Linked DNA regions of Homo sapiens: region 2 is linked to region 1. Evidence: fine-mapped expression QTL. A gene starts in region 1. The other region holds a variant in brackets. All regions are shown on one strand. Distances are between the middles of the regions. Region 1 holds the start of MEIS1-AS3 (MEIS1 antisense RNA 3). Region 2 overlaps MEIS1 (Meis homeobox 1).

Region 1 (8,337 bases):
TATTCTATTTTCTTATTTACTCTTATGAACTTTGTTTCCAGACTAGAAGTCAAGGAGGCAAATGTTACTCACCAGGTTTAAAGCAAATTCAAAAGCAAATGCACAACTTTCCATCTTCCTCTTCCAGAAAAAAAAAAAAAAAACTACTTTCATATTGATTGTCATTATTTTGTGTGTGTGAAATTTAGCTATTTAGGTTTTTCTAATTGGTTCATTCCAGGCAGTTATTTTCCCAAGATTTGGAGGCGCTGAGAGTGAAATGATTTTCAAAGAAAGGAGGAATTGCCACTTTCATCTCCTTAAAGCCAGAGGTGTGAAAAGAGTTTGGAAGAACGCTGACATTTGCCTGAACCAAAGGAGTAAAGAAAACTGTGTCAGCCTAGTAACTTTCTTTTGCAAACAGGGCTTTGAGGGCCAGGACACAAATTATGCAAGGAAGGCTTTTTGTAGACCCCCTTTCTTTTAAGAAACTACCTCAGTTGGGTTGTCATTGTCTCACTTTACTCTCACTGCATTTCCATTGAAAAAGGAATATGGGGAAATTAGTATTGCATTTTTAAAGTGAGTAACTGTGTGCTTAGTATTCAATTAGTAGAGGGCTTATCTAAGAGAAACTTGCAAAATATTGCCTTGTATACAAGTCTATACAAATTGAAATTACTATAAAAAGATGAATGTTTTCTGACCAAAAAATTGGCTATACTATGACAAAGTTATTTCCTTTAAAAAGCTGAATACTTCTAGTGATATTAAAGATGAGCATAATCAATAACATATCAGAAGTTTCCAGCTGCATATTTTAGTTTAAACATAACTTTAAACTTCTGATCTCTGAATGTTCAAATTACAGCTTTAGGTATCTAGCTTTTTTAAAAAAAAACCCAGATGATTGTTTGAGCTTGCATTTTTATTTATATAGCTGCTGGTTAGGAATCTATAGATAAATAGATTCCTTTAATTAACAACTCCAAGTAACATACATAAGTCTACAAATGCATTGAATAAATCCTCTCGCTTAGGCCACGGCTTTAGGAGCCTCATTTTTTAAAAGAGAGAGAGAAAAAAAGGAAACTTTTTAGCAGTGTCTTTCGGCCACGTTTCAATTTAATCTCACATTTGAGTTCCACAATTGTTTTTTAATACGTACCCTTTGCGCCATCGGCCTCTCTGGCTCCCTTCCTACTTCAACTTCTAATATATCCTCTTTAAGGCCAGTGTGAAAAGAAACAAATATTCAAACTCCCCCGGAAAAAAAAAAAAAAAAAAAAAAAAGCACGACGAAAAATCCCTTAACGTCTCCAGCAACGTGAGCTACTGGTCCCAGATCTTCGGTCTACGGGACCTGAAGCAAAGCGCCCGAGTCACTGAGCATAAAAGCGCTCCGTTTCCAAGACAGCAGCGGGGGCAAAAAAAAGCAGATCTTCTCTCCCCCAAAAATCAGTTTAAAAAAAAAAAAAGAAAGAAAGAAAGAAAAGGAAAAAAAAGAGCGCCCCTCAGACCCAACTACCAAATCTCATGGCTTTCTGCCACTCCAGCTGTCAATCACAGGCGAGGTTGTCAACGTGGTGAATGAATGATCATCCGCTCTGTCTTCTTCTGGTCAGAACACCTCAAATGTTAATATTCAAATGCACAAAGCCCTAGCGCTCGCTTCCCTTGAATCAGTCCTAATTCCTAATCAGTTTCTCTCTTCTCTCTCTCTCTTTCTTTCTCTCCCTCTCTCTCCCTCTTTGCAAGTGCTGCACTGGAAGGAGATTAGAGAAGGAGGGTTAAAAAAAATGTCTGTCTGAGTTTGTCTTAAAGGAGCCACGATCGATGCTGCCCGCTTGCAGTCCCCGTGCGTGTGTAAAGTGTGTGTTGCACAGGCGGAGAGGTGGATTCCGACCAGAATGCTAGAACCCGGAAGTAGTGGTGGCCATAACAGGTCGCGTCTTACACAATGCATTGGGCTGCAGCAAGTAGGCTCCTCGGCAGGGGTGGGTGCGCGAAGCGAGCTCTGGCCGCACTGGAGAGGCAGAGAGGCGCTCCATTAAATCGCACGCCCAGGCACAAACACCACACACCCAGGGCACACGCACACAAACGCAGGCAGTAGCCCGCGGCCGCCAGCTTTATTTTCAGTATTCTTTTCTCTCCCTCCCCCTGCAGACTCTCTCCCCAAAGCCGACTCTCTTGAAATAAATTGGGAATCAACGCCGGGCAGGCAGCAGCGGGAGTTATTTTGCACAGGGCTCCGCGCATAGACTTCATGACTTTCCTCGAAATTATTGGGGTCTGCCAGTGTTTTTCGGGGCAGGGGGTGATGCGCAAAGTACTGAATTCTCAGAACTAAACACTGCAAGGAGAAAAGTCAAAGCGGGATCGTGGAGGAAAAGGAGGGAGAAGCCAGGTTGGGAAAGCCTCTGCTAAGGAGTCCTGAGAACATGGGGTTGAGGTGGCTCGGGCTTTCTGCAGACCCAGCTTAGAGGTTTCTTTGCTGTTAGAGGTGGACGCCCGGCCGGGGGAAAGAAAATGCTAGCATTTTGTCACTTCGGGTCTGGACTCCCCCACCTCCTAGCCCCGGCGGCTCCCAGCCCCAGCCCAGGCGTCCTGCGCGAAGTAGAGAGGAAGGGAGGGAACAATGAGCTGAGCGCGGGGAATGTGCCCCCAGCGCCTGTTTACAAACACCAAGCTATTTATGATCGTCGGAAAGCGAAACCCGGCGCGGGCTCGCAGCAGCCCAGACCTCGCGGGCGGAGCCGGGGCCGGGGAGCCGCTGGGAGGGAGGCTCTTTCTCCGACCCGCTCGGGGTGAGGCGGCCGTGCGCCCAGGGCGCGGCGCGGCGCGGCGCGACGCTGCCGGAGTGCTAGGCTCCGGCTGCAGCCACCGCTGCCTTTGTCTTAGAGGCGCCGAGGGGCTCCAGCCTCGACCTCTCCCGGGCCTGTAAGAACCTCGCGCCCCACTAGCTCTTTCTCCAGCGAAGCCCTGCCCTCACCACCCCAGACATCCTTCCCCGCGCTCCTCTTTCCCGTCCCCAACCCGGCTCGGCGAAACCTCCCAGTGCCAGAGAAAAAGAAATCCGCTTCGGAAGCTGAGATTTCAGACAAAAGCTGCCTGTACCTACAACTCGGAGGCTCCAACCAACCACTGTTTTTTGTTTTGTTTTGTTTTTAACTTTAACACCTATTGCCTGGGCTTTAATTCCCCCTCACCCCTTCTCTTTATTCTCCCGCTCTAAGCTTCTCCCTTGTGATTATATTTAGTGGCGTTATTTTCGTATTTATATTTCTGTCCGCTGGGCTCTGATCTGCCGAGATGGCTCAGCCGCAGCAGCTCTACCAGTGGCTGGAAACCTCACATCCACAAGCAGGGCTCGCAGCTCGCTCGGCTCCGAGAGGATTTTTCCCCCTCCCTCCAGCTGAAACCTCGCAGAAAACTCCCCCTGCGGTCGACTGGAAAATGAGCTCACCCAAATCTCGGTAGGCAGCCGTGGAGGAGTGCTCGGCCAATCAGGAGGCGCCCCCGCCCAGGCCGCCGCGCATTGGCTGCGGGGAAAATCAATTATCAAATAATCGATCAGCAGGGAGCTTCGATCTGCGGGGAATGCGAACTGCCAGTCCCTATTCCCGCCCTGAAGGTGGCCAAAAGGCTGACTCCCTCCAAGCAGCCCGCCCGCGCCTCCATCGCCCCCACCCACGTCCCACTCGCCAGCTGCGGACTGAACCCTCACCCTCAAGGGGGTGTAGGTAGGGAAAGAGTTTTGAGCAAGATTGGGGGTATCCCTTCATCCGAAGATTGTTTGGGAAAGGTTAGGAGCTCTAAAATGTATTGAAGCCAACTCTTAAGCGCAAAGTAAAAGATAATTTGCGTCCGTCTGCGAGGTAGGACTGAAGATTCTATAGAGTGGGCTTCCGAGGAGCAGGAGACACAGGGCGAGCATGAGAACATAGGTCTGGAATGAGGTTCCACCGAGCGTCCGTAGTCTCCTTAGGCGACATCTATCGCTTCCTTTAGCACTTCGCAGGAGTCAACGCGGGGTTGGTTGCCCCCAACAGTGGAGCGTTTCCATAAAGCCGAGCAGATGAGCCTTCCCAGCCGCCTGCACTGCACCCTTCCCCGCCCCCAACTCCGTACTGGCACCCTGTGTGCCTGAAGGGCTGACACACGTTCTCCCAAAACCTTCAGAAGCGCTTTGCCTTGAAAGAGCTCTCCCTCGTGTGTGTGTGTGTGTGTGTGTGTGTGTGTGTGTGTGTGTGTGTGTGTGTGTGTTTAAACCATCTCCAGGATCCCTTATCATTTGCTTCCTCTCTCCTTTTTCTCTCTGTTTCTCCCTGTCTTTTTTCTGACGCTTAAGTTTCAGGATCTTTTAGTTTTTTTCCATCACATACATGTGTAGGTTTTCTGGTACAAACGCCCTGAAACATCACTTGGGAGGTTAAGACAGGCCCGCGAGTAAAAGCTGGGGACGGAGTGGGTGGGCAGCCAGGTGCATTACCAGCGCCTTTATGCCTCTGCCTACACTTCCCGGCCTCCCCCCATCCCCCCACCCCCCCACCCCACGCCTCACCGTCGCTCCCCGGCCCCACAACATGAACTTGGAAGCAGAATTTCAGGCCAAGATGGAACCTCCCCGTCTCAGGAAGGCGATTTCTGTTTAATCCTTGGGAGGCTGCGCTGGCTGGGCCAGGCAGCACGCTCCTTTTCCGATTAGGGAAAGGACTAAGCTGGGCCGGCAGTCTGCGACCCCTTCCCGGAACCCCAGCCGACTTCGGGGTATACCTGAGCGCCTTCCGATGGCTGCTCGCGGGGGTGTGATCATCGTCCCCGCATCAGGCCCGCCAGGCATCTGCGCGACTCGGGGGTAGGAGGGAGATGCGTGGGTGGGAGGTGGGGGTCAAACCAAACACCGACAGGGCACACCTACGTTTATGATCCTTAAATGAACTGCGAGGGAAATTGTGTAAGTATAATTTAACTGAGAGAAATTTATTGCGAAATACGCTTAGAGGACTGTGGTCTTTAACAGCCTCAGGGGTTCTTCGGCAAAGAGGTAACGGGGCTTGGATTTACCACAACTCTGCGGCCACGTTTTCAAATTTGGAAAAGGTCAGTATATATATATATATATATATTTGACAACAGGATTTATTTTGTATTGTTGCTTTCCGGTAATCTTTTTCTTTTGTTTTCTAGCACAGATGAGAAAAGAAGGTTCAGGTAAGTCACCCTTTGCAAACATAACCAAAATCTTCAAAGCAGGAGGAAGACTAGACGACTGCATGCTTTAACCATGATGTGCCAGATTACCTTAAAAATGTACTTTAAATTACCTACACACAAATTTTCCTTAAAGAATGAGATAGTTTGAGTTTGCGGACTTAAAATCAACTCAGTAGTTTTGAAAAGTGCCCCTCCCCCCCCCCACAGTCTTTCCATTTTAAACTGTGAACCTAATATAACTTCTAGGCCTTTATACAATTAATTCTGAACAATCAAGGGACTAAACACTTTTACAATGTAATTACAGTAGTACAAATTGTTTGCCCAAACCTCATTCTGGATAAGGATTTTACAATTAGCAAACAGTTATTACAGTTGGGGCTTGCTGAGAGAAATTGCACAGAGGATGTCTAGAGTTGCAATATAGTAGCCATAAAAAAAAAAAAAACTCCTTTAGCAGGGCAGCAATTAATCATCTATTAAAAGGAAACAAATGAAGGGACAGGTCTAGGTATCTTAGTAAACTACTGTCAATATTTATGCCCATTTTTTGACAGCCCCTATTCCTAACTTATTTCAGATACTTGCTTTTTTAAGGCAATAGCACTTTTATTTTGCAAAAACTTGGCCTGGTGAAAACTTCTGGCACTTGGCCCTAGCTCTTGCGATTCAGGCCTTCCGTTCTCTTCTCATCCTTCTTATCTCAGAGCATCTTTCCAGAGATAGAGAACGGTGACAAAAGGAGGCAGACTGGGCCCTTGGTCTCTATTGTTTACACCCTCCTGTATGGAGGCATTTCAAGCCCTCAGTGCTCCTCTGAGCTGCTGGTAAAGTCGTCTCGGAGAACTCCCCTGACTTTATGTTCTATAAGGAATTGTGCTTCTGGAAAGATCTATATCCTAAATTAGGCTTTTGTCCCAAAAGGTCACACTGATGAGTCAGCTCCAAAACCCTTAGAAACTAAAGAGGCACCTCTTAAGGTAAAACGTGTGTGTATTTGCCAGCCCAGAATAAACAAAAGCCTGTTAATCAATCGAGTTTGGCAGCTGTGTTCACAAAATGATAAGGGTTTATCATTTGCCACCAAACTTTAAGATGTCCCTTAAAATGCTGTGATTGGTTTTTAGGTTGTCCTGTGGTGTGGAGGCTTGGCGTTTGTATTTCAAAAACATTCATCCTCTGCATCTCTCCCCCTCACTAGCATTGACATTTCAAAAAAACAGAAATAAGAGGAGGGAGGGAAAGATAGTTTAAAGAAAATAGATTCGAAATCTAGTACAGATAATAGAGGAATGCTGGAGATAAGAGCCTGGAGGTGATATGAGAAAGGCACCAAGAAGTCAAAGCTAATGAATGGCTGTGAGAAAAGTGAAATAAACTATTGAGAGATCTATTAAAGGGGGAAACCTGGTTAGGTGATATCAAAGGGGGTTAACTGAGAGGATTAGGGAGGATGTTAATCAAGTGCTCTAAAGCATTACAGGCTATAAGGACTGAAAGATTTGTTTACTGCATTTTGCTTCAGAAAACAAAGAATGTCTGGGTCCAGTTCAGAAGTCAATTAGAGGTCAGCTTAGGCTCTCCAAGGGTTGCAGGGAAAATACCTAAGTTACTATATTCTGACTGGATGATGCAAAAATTAGGGAAAAAAAATGGGGGGTGAGAGGGAGGTGCTTTCCTTACTATTCTATTTCAAATCATTAAAATGCTTTGGTCTCTAGGGGGGAAAAAACTACACTGGTTAACATAATTACTAGCTCTGACATTTTCAGAAGTTATAGAGGTCTTTTATTAATTAAATGGAGGGCTTAATAAAGTATTCCTAATAAAATTTATGGTTGTCTTAAAACTTTCTAAACAGTGCTATAAATTCTTAATAAAATTAACTGGGAAATGAGTTATTAGCCCACACTTTACCCTCCCCCCCAAACTGCTACATAAGGAGTGTCTGCAGAATGAAAAGGAAATAGAAGCCTTTTAGTAAAATATAAATATTAGCCAAAGTCATGCATTGCTCTGAAAGAGGCAAAGTCCCAACTGTTGTTTCTACTGGCCTCATTCTCCAATATCCCCCAAAAGCTATCCCACAAAACTTCATCAAGAGAATTTATTCCCCTTCCCAAGTACCTATTATATATGCATTTATGTGTAAGTGCATTTGAAATACAACCTTCAATTTTGTGGACTGAGTTGTATGTTAAATGTAGTAAAAAACATAGATGCATCATGCAAAGTTCCGCTATAGAATCTTCAAGTCTCACGGTGCAAATACTTTCTTTATTTTTAATTAAAAATAAAATGCCCTGTAATTTCTCTCACTTTAATTTCTATAAAGATAACTTTTAAATGATAAATTTCTAAATAACATTTTTCTCTGAAGTTATTTAAAAGTGTATTTTCTGAAGCAACATTTTGTTGACATATGCAAAACCTTTTTATATCATTACGTTTCAAAACTTTTAGTGAGTTATCTTAAGTTTTCAGGTACTTCACTGCTTCACAGATACAATGCTGGCTGGTTAGCTATTTTAAAGAAGATCACACACATACACTTCAAACCACAGCAGCCTTGGTGAATTGTTTAGCATTTGAAGGCTTGATCTTTTGTGCCGTCTACTGGACAATAGAAAAACTGCAGCCTTGATGACAAACTTTAATCTTGTTTTACGGGGGTGGGAGGTGGTGGTTGGGGGTATGATTTGGTGCTGGTAACTAACAAGAGAAAACCACAGTACCCAACTTAGACTCATAGGACAGGTCTTGGGGTCTAACCATGTTTTTCAAATCCAAAGATAGGATATGATATCAATCATAGGTGTATAGCTCAAACACTTGATTAAGGCACAAGGCTAAAACCTACATTGAATACAGCTGTGCATGTGTGTGTACCCATATGCCTAAACTTGGGAAGACAGCCTGGGAAAAGAAAGGAAGATAGGACAGATTCAACAACTCTGAAAACAAAAACAAAAACAAAAAACAAAAAACAGTAGTGGTTGCTTGACACTGAGGATGAATTTGCTTGACAGTCAAGTTAAATCTATCTACTGCCTCGATAATCTAGCATGTACAAATCAGTTCTTGGAATTTGGAAAGTGACATTGGTAATCAAGAAAAAAAACCCTTTAGGAGAGGGGA
Region 2 (8,337 bases), 44 kb before region 1:
CTATCTTCAGGAGGAAATTTGCACTTTGAAAAACAGACAAAAAGATCAAATCTTTTTACCAAAAATATATTCTGCATTATTAAATAATTCTAGTGACTACTTAAAAGGGCATATTGAGCTAGATCTCAGCCTGTACCTTCATTGGATAAATCACATAATATCCCAGTGTGCTAAATCTCCTTGAAAGAAACTCTGGCTTAGATTCTGCCATCTCAAATTGTCCCAAACTTCTATCTAAAGAGAAATTTTAGTCACTAGTATCCCAGAGGTTTCATTATGGCCACAGCTGTTAGTAGACCACATTTTCATCCTGAGTAGCCAGGGAAATATTTCAATGCAGTATATTTTTTGCTCAGAACTCTTTGAGAACACACCAAATAGGAAATAATTAGAATAACATTTACTTATCCTCACATATTAGCATTAAATTATTGGTTGTATTAGTGGCTTGCATTTACATTAAACTTGCAAATTATATAGACCCTTATTTCTATTCTATGAGCATTTGAATTTTTTCCCTGCATGCATATCTAATCATTTGCTTACCTCTTATCACTCCAGGAACCTAGAGTTCTTAATTCCATGGATTTCCACAGGGCAAGAATCTAGGCCACCGTTTATGCACAGAAATCAATTCAGCCATCACTACACTATGCATCAAAACAACATTTTAAGAGCAAAAGTTGAAGTCAGTGGCATTGAGCCAAAGCACCTCTCCTCTGAAGGAAAATGCAGTGAGATTTTTAAAGAGCAAATAGGGCAGGTTACCGAGCCTTACTGTCTCACCAAGAAATGGGGAATCCTTCATGGCCCGGGGCTTCTTGATTCAAATCTGGAGCTTAAGACTTTGTGCCTAAAGAAAAGTGCTGATTGCCTTATCCCCCAGTGCATTTCTGGAATGTCCCATGTAAATATTCACTGGATCAATTTTCTTTCTTTGCTCCTAGTGAGATCATATTAACCAATGACACTTTTATGTTTTTAATTAAAATCAAAAAGAGCATTTTGGCACCATAAGTCTATTGCATTTTTATAAGATCTTCATCTCTGAAACACAATCTTATACTAACATGACAGTTTCAAAAAAATCATATTATCATAAATCATAGAAACATCATTGGCTTCTTTTAAATTGTATTCAATATACTAACTACACCATTCACAAATTATAACAATCTATGCAAATGTACATTAAAGCCATAAAAAGCTTTTCCAGCATATCCTTTTCCCACAGCCCAAATAAAGGTAAATTAAGAAAATCTGGCAAAAGGCGTATATGTCTATTGCCATTTCCCACAGCAAATAGGGTGTTTTCCTCTGGGAATAAAACATTTTCTTTAAACTACTGTTTATAGCCCTTATCAGCTCAACTGCAATAGAGCCATCAAGTCCAATCTCTTGTGGAAAAAAGTCAAGGTCAACAAGTACTTGCATTTTTGTTTTTTCTTTAGCTGCAATTGCTACTGACATCCAATTGGGTAATAAACATGAGGTCTGTCAAATGTTCCCAAAGAACAGGTGATCCAAAAGCTATCTCAGCACAAGGCCATTGCCAGGTAATCAAACAATCTTGTTATAACAATTATGATTTGAGTACATTTATTTATAGATGCAAACATCTGTCAGTTCTGAATGAATATTGCCAGACAATTCCCACCATTGCGGTCATAAGAATGAGGAAGTACAAGAGGGCTCTTGCTAGAGTTACTCACCAACAATAATGTGTACCCTGATGAGCAGAGTACCATCCAAAGAAAAGGCTTTCTCCTCTTATCTTTTCTATTTAAAGGCAATTTTGTGTAGCTCAATACAACCATGTCCTTTACTATGCCAGCCAGGTTCCTGAGCCCAGTTGCCTTTCTCTGCCTGAAAACCAATTCTACGGTTATGTGTGCGTGTGTCTATTTGGAATTGTTGCATTATTCCTTTAAGCCAGCATGGTTGCTACATTCAAAAACACTCCATTTGAACTTGAAAAGTGCTAGAATTTGTTTAGCACGTTTAATCCTAAAAAGTCAGATAGATGTTTGGAACAAAGACCACATAGTTCTTTCCAATTCATCATGAAGCTCACTGATATCAACAGGAGTTATGCATTTGGATCTGGGCAGCACATGGCTCCATGCCATATGCAACTTACGGATTAAAAATAGAATCTGTTCCAGCTGCAAAGTAAGACATGTTAAACTTACAGCCTCCATTTGAAATATGAAAATTAAATCTACGGACTATGGCTAGTGTCTAAGATGATGACTCTGATCCACATAATGCAAACCTATTGCTTCCATTTCAGTTATGGAAAATGAGCCTAAGGTCTATTCTTGGGGCCTAAAAGCAATGCTTCCACTTCTCGCTATGTAACTTGTATTAAGATTCCATTATTTAGTGGAGCAATTAATGTTTTCCAAAGCTGATTCCTTCACTATCAAGAGCATCAGGAAAAATGGAAACAAAGTAAAGCTAATTCTTCTAAAAACACATAAACCCACATCTTGGGGAAGAAAGTAAAAACTAAAAACAAAACAAGAAATTCTAGACACACAAAATGAAGTACGCTACTTTGAAAGACAGCTTTCAATGTAGACACACTAAGTACCAGGTGACAGTGTTTTTAGCCAAATAAATACTGTTTCAGTGTAAAAAGGTATCCTTCATTCTTTAACATTCTGGCAAAAAGTCAACGTAACCAGAGTTGTATCAGCAGGCATAACGGTATACTGTTTCTAATCCTGCATTCTATTAAGTCTTGGGCAGGTAATCTGAAGACTCTACATAGAAAGAAAAATTAGCAGCTGAGAAGTGGGAAAGGCTGAAGCACACCAGGATTAGAATCCACTGGGAGCACATAAACATGAAGGCCCATGAGGCAAAACATCTATTCTGCAAATACTCAGGAAATGTTCATCAATCAGTTGTCAAGCAAAGGGGGAAGTCACCTCATTTTCAGAGCAGTAAACTGATGAAATGAGTCACCAAATTCCCATGACAGCTTGGCTGGCCTCTTCCTTTCCACCCAGCCCCTGGTCTCCACGGAGCCGGAGCCTTCTTTGAGGGAAAGCAGTGCAGCAGAGAGAATTAGCAGGATTTCTGCAAGCCATCCTCAGGAACAGGTGGGAAAAGCATCACCTCTGCCCAGCAAGGGTGTAGGAGAAAAGCCACAGCCATCAATGACCAGCTGCATTTTCTCCCATCTAGAGTGGCAAAGCTACATTCAAAAGAAGACAAAGAAAGAGCATGCCAGTGGGACCTGTAGTCTGTGTAGTCAGTCTTCTGAAACCTTGGCATCATCCCAGAGCCTTTGCACTCCACTACCCTCTGCGTCCACTGTTTCTCTGTCCAGTCCAGTCTTCCTCCTCAAAGCTACTCTCTCTAGCCTCCTCCCTCTGCCTAAGTAAAGTTCTGCAACATTTCTGAATAACTATCATGCTGACTCCAGCCTCCCCCTGCTCCAATTCCTCCTTCACTTCCATCCAACCACGCCACAACCCTCACATTTCCAATGACTCCCTACTGCCTGCTAAACCAATGCCAGAATGACAAATATGGGCTTAAGATGACAAATATGACCCTCTGTGGTCTTGCCCCTGTTACCTCTTGGGCCTTACCTCAGACTCTTCCTCTCTCACACCCACTCTCTACTCATGCTGAAGCACACACAAAGTCCCCAAAGTGGCATGCTCTCTCTCCTTCCTACCTTTACACAAGCTAATTTTTTTTTTCCTTACATGCCCCTCTTCTCCATCTCTCCCAAGTTTCCATCATAGACTTGCTCTCTTAGGAGACTGAGTGGGAGATCAGAAATAGAAAACCAATTTCTTCTAGGGCTAACTCCGGGGGACGAGGTAGTGGTTGCTGGAGCACTGTGTGGAGAAGGACCTGCATCTGCACTCCTTTCAGGCCCCGTGACAAGGGTGCTGTGATCCATTAAAAATGGCCACCATGGAAAGGCTAGAGAGAGGCCCATCCGATGCCAGGCAGGTGCTGCCCCTGTGCCAGTTTGTTAGGTACCATTCCTCTACTTCCAAATTACTCAGAACCTGCTCACTAG[G/T]GAGACTTAACCTATGATATACTAAACTGTCTGTTCCTCCACCAGACTGTCAGTTTCTTGATTCCAGAAATGACCTCTTTCACTCTGAATTCCCACATTTAGCAGAGGACCGGTATGCAGTGGACATTTAATTAATTCAGTTAATAAATGGGAATATTTCTCTTTTCACTTCTATCTTTGGGAGTAATCCTCTCATATGCTTAAAATGTACATCAAGCAATACTTTTATTTGTAGTAAATGTATTCCTTTTACCTGAGGGGATGTTTTTGGTGCCAGGATGAGGTAAGCCAAATATTCATAACACTCAGCCCCCTCCAGCTTTATAGGCTGAAGTCATATTCCCTCAGAACTTTCATTTTTAAGGACTGCAGCATCAGAACCTTCCATTCTGGCATCCCATCTTAGCCTCTCAGCATCTCCATTCTAACCATTGTTTACCTGAATCTCTCTGGTTCCATTAACCCTGTTCCTGGGGATAATAACCAGAGTAACAACAGCATCCTCAACCCCATTCCTGACTTCAGATGGAGGGAGAAAAGACTGGAGAATGAGGCGAACCCACCAGAGAATGGTCAGAAGAAGGAGACAGACAAGAGAAGAAAGGCCTCATGGCATCACCAAATACTCAGCACCTTGGCTCACATCAAAATAGGCTGTCATTCATTTCAACCATGAAAATCAAGACTCAGATTCCAATGAGTTAAAGAAACAAAAGGATGAATATGATTACAGATACCTAGTCCAATCAATCAAATATGTATCAACAATTATTATAACTGCAGCATTGTTCTAGGAGCTGGGGAATGTAAGAGGAGTCCTACAGATGCTGTCAAGGATGCCAGCCTCTGCCATCTCCCTGGACTCCCTGTGTGAGGATACGAGGAGAATTTCTTTCAGATCTTAATGCTGGTCAAATCGATTCTTCTGAGCAACTTCCATGGATGTTGTAAATCTTGTAATTAATTATATTTCAGTCTTTGTTTTAGCTGCTAGGAAGCTCAGGGCCAAATTAATACCTATTTCTAGTCATTGTACATGATCTTATAATTTATATTGCTTGGTACTACCCTTATTTCTTGGCTTTTTGTTTATTTTGCTTTCATTCTAATTCGTTCATCTACACATTTTTTATCCTATTGTATACTATAAACTTTTATTAATTTCCTTAAATCCTTTCTTAGAATGAGAGGGAGAATATATATACATATTTATATTTATGCATATATAAATATATACAATATATAAATATGTTATTTATTAAATAAATATATAAATTTATTTTATATTTTTATATATAATATATTATATATTTATTTTATAAATAACATATTTATAAATATTTTTATAAATATACATATTTATTTATATAGGTGTGCATATTTATATTTTATATTTATAAATGATATTTATATTCATATATTTATATATATATATGTGTATATATATATGCATTTTAAAATCAATATATCCTTTTCTCCCAAGGTATTAAAGTATAAAAGGGTGTCAAGGTGCTAGCTGTCCTGGCTGTCATAAGTAGTAGGGGCACTCAAGGAAAGAGTCAAACTACAACAGTAAATGCTAATAACCTAGCAACAAGCCCATTGGCAAATTCAATATTTTCTGCATTCACTCTGTAGTTCTCTTTTTCTTAAAAATATACATTTTTTAAAAATGTAAGCTTTGCTACGTAAGGTCATATTCTCCTTTTCTTCTAATATGGAAATAAGTAACAGGAAGTTCTGCTGTCTTCATTCTTTGTTACAAAATAAAGTGAGCAACGTTAGGAGGGAATGCATATGAATTGATATTGGTAAGAGGGAGAAAGCCAAACTAATTGTACTAATCAAATAGAATGCTTTTAGGTTAAGCAATTATGGAAAACTATATGCAAGACTGAGCTAATCCACAAAGCCAGACACTTGAGCAAAACCCAACTTTACCAACTACATTTCTGGGACTAATCAATACAACAGGTAGACCATGCCTACATTTTTTTTTTCCTGAGGAAAATGCTTGGCATAAATTTACTGTTTGGGTTAGTTTTTGCTAGGCCAACAGCCAAAGCCTCTACTACTATTCTTAATTAGTGCTATCACCCATGATAAAGAGAAATAACATCAGGGGGAGAGCTAAATATCACAGCCCAGGGCAGGTAGAATCATGGCTGCTACTGGGAAGGGCATAGGACATAAAAACATCCTCCCAGGGTAGCATAGTTACCCTTGCTACAGGGTCCTGTCTCAGAATTCAGTCTCACCTCAGCCCTATAATCCCTCAAAAGATCCTCAGATGCTGCTCCTGGCATCCACCCATCTTCTGTTAGATGCTCACTGCGGGGCAGAGGGTGATGTCCCAGGGTAGGAGTACGGAGAACAAGTGATTAGGTGGATGGCATGATTTAAGGTCAAGACCTCCATATGCATGTGTTCTACATCCACGTATTCAACCAACTGAGGATAGAAGGTATTTGAAAAAAAAAATGGATGATTGCATATGTACTGAACATGTACAGACTTTTTTCTTGTCATTATTTTCTAAACAATACAGTATAACAACTATTTGCAAAGCATGTACATTGTACCAGGTATTATAAGTAATCTAGAGATTATTTAAAGTATATGGGAGGATGTGCATAGGTTATATGCAAATACTATGCCATTTAATAGCAGGGAATTGAGCATCTGAAGATTTTGTTGTCTGCGGGGTTGAGGGGAGAGGGTCCTGGAACCAATCCCTGGGGGATACCAAGGGATGGCTATACATCCCCAAACCCATTTATTTAACTTCTGACACTTAAGTTTAGAAGTTGTTAACCTGGGCTATATAGACACCTCCTCAAGGGAGATCCATGGTTAGAATTCAGGGGATATATGTACTTGAGAAGGGGAAAAAATTACATTTTTATTATCAATAACTTCAATTAGAATTAGCATTTCCTTCATGCTTGTATGTAAGTAAGTAACAAACCACAGAACTATTAGCAGGACCTGTAACTTTGTTCCCAACGGAAATCATATTTGCATATCACAATATAGTTGTTATAAATATCTTAAAACATGACTTACATTTATCACTACTTCAAAAATTCAGCAGACAACAGAATTACTAGTAGATCTTGTTATTTAAGCCTATTTAACAGAGCACTTATATTACTATATATATATATATATATATTTTTTTTTTTTTTTTTTTTGACATGGAGTCTCACTCTTGTTACCCAGGCTGGAGTGCAATGGCACAATCTCGGCTCACCGCAACCTCTGCCTTCCAGATTCAAGCGATTCTCCTGCCTCAGCCTCCCAACTAGCTGGGATTACAGGCACGCACCACTATACCCGGCTAATTTTGTATTTTTAGTAGAGATGGGGTTTCTCAATGTTGGTCAGGCTGGTTTTGAACTCCTGACCTCAGGTGATCCGCCCACCTTGGCGTCCCAAAGTGCTGGGATTACAGGCATGAGCCACCGCGCCCGGCCTTATATTACTATATTACAACTTGGCTTTAAAAAATATTTAGAAGATTGAATTTTAATACAATTCACTGCCCTTGTAGTCCTGTGGGTTTTATTTGATACATTAATAAATATATTACTCTGATAAGGTATCCATTGGCTTCACCAGACTGCCAAAGGGGTCCTCTCCTCCTCAAAATGTCAAGATTCCCTTGAAGAAGATCAATCTGAGTCAGCAGCCAGGTGACTAATGGCGGTGAACACAATGATGACCCCAATGGTTCAGACAGCAGAGGCACTGGCTGGCTCATGGCAGTGTGGAAGGACTGGACCAAGTTTCCAAGAGTGGGCTCTGGAGCCAAGTCCACCTAACAGGGCCCCATAGATGCTGAACGTCTACACCTACCAAGGTAGTGCTGTCCCTCTGCAATTTGAACCTAATACCCACCACGCTGTGTTTCATCCAGCAGGCCTGACCACGGAGTTCACCATGTCTGGGTCATTGGCATGTTGTGAAATAAATACACTCACGGCTCCCTAAGAATATCCAATATTTAGCAAATATTTTACTTTGATATGCTTGATGTTCTTGGTAGCACACAGGAACTTCCTAAGGGCAAATACTATGACCTACTCATTTTTATAGCTCACACAGAGTACCTGGCACACAGTAAGTGCTTAATCTATTTTTGATGACTTGACTAGAATGTATAAATTTACATTCCCATCCCCCGCTTAAACACAACTCATGATAATATTTTGGCTCATCTGCAGGAGAGATTATAATTCTAAACTCTTTTTATCTCCTTGGGCTACATTAAATGGATGCTTCCCTAA

The links. PIP is the estimated chance that this variant, and not a neighbour inherited with it, causes the effect. A credible set is the group of variants that fine-mapping cannot tell apart.
Region 2: its variant is the best candidate, but not a certain one, in a credible set for the expression of MEIS1-AS3 in gastroesophageal junction (GTEx, PIP 0.88).

The regions. Positions count from the first base shown.
Region 1 is chr2:66,428,679-66,437,015 of GRCh38, reverse strand. It overlaps MEIS1-AS3 (MEIS1 antisense RNA 3), which reads left to right and starts at 3,546. Exons shown (of 4, transcript NR_046438.2): 1 at 3,546-3,725; 2 at 5,006-5,085; 3 at 5,178-5,196. It overlaps MEIS1 (Meis homeobox 1), which reads right to left and starts at 1,891. Exons shown (of 13, transcript NM_002398.3): 1 at 1,148-1,891. The coding sequence starts at 1,159. RefSeq lists enhancers at 1,932-2,031, 1,619-2,495, 3,365-3,717, a promoter at 1,593-2,133 and a silencer at 2,740-2,839.
Region 2 is chr2:66,472,284-66,480,620 of GRCh38, reverse strand. All of the region lies in intron 7 of MEIS1 (Meis homeobox 1), which reads right to left. Among named protein-coding and RNA genes, the nearest start is that of MEIS1-AS2, 36 kb to the right of the region's middle. The variant G/T (reference allele first, on the strand shown) is at 4,049.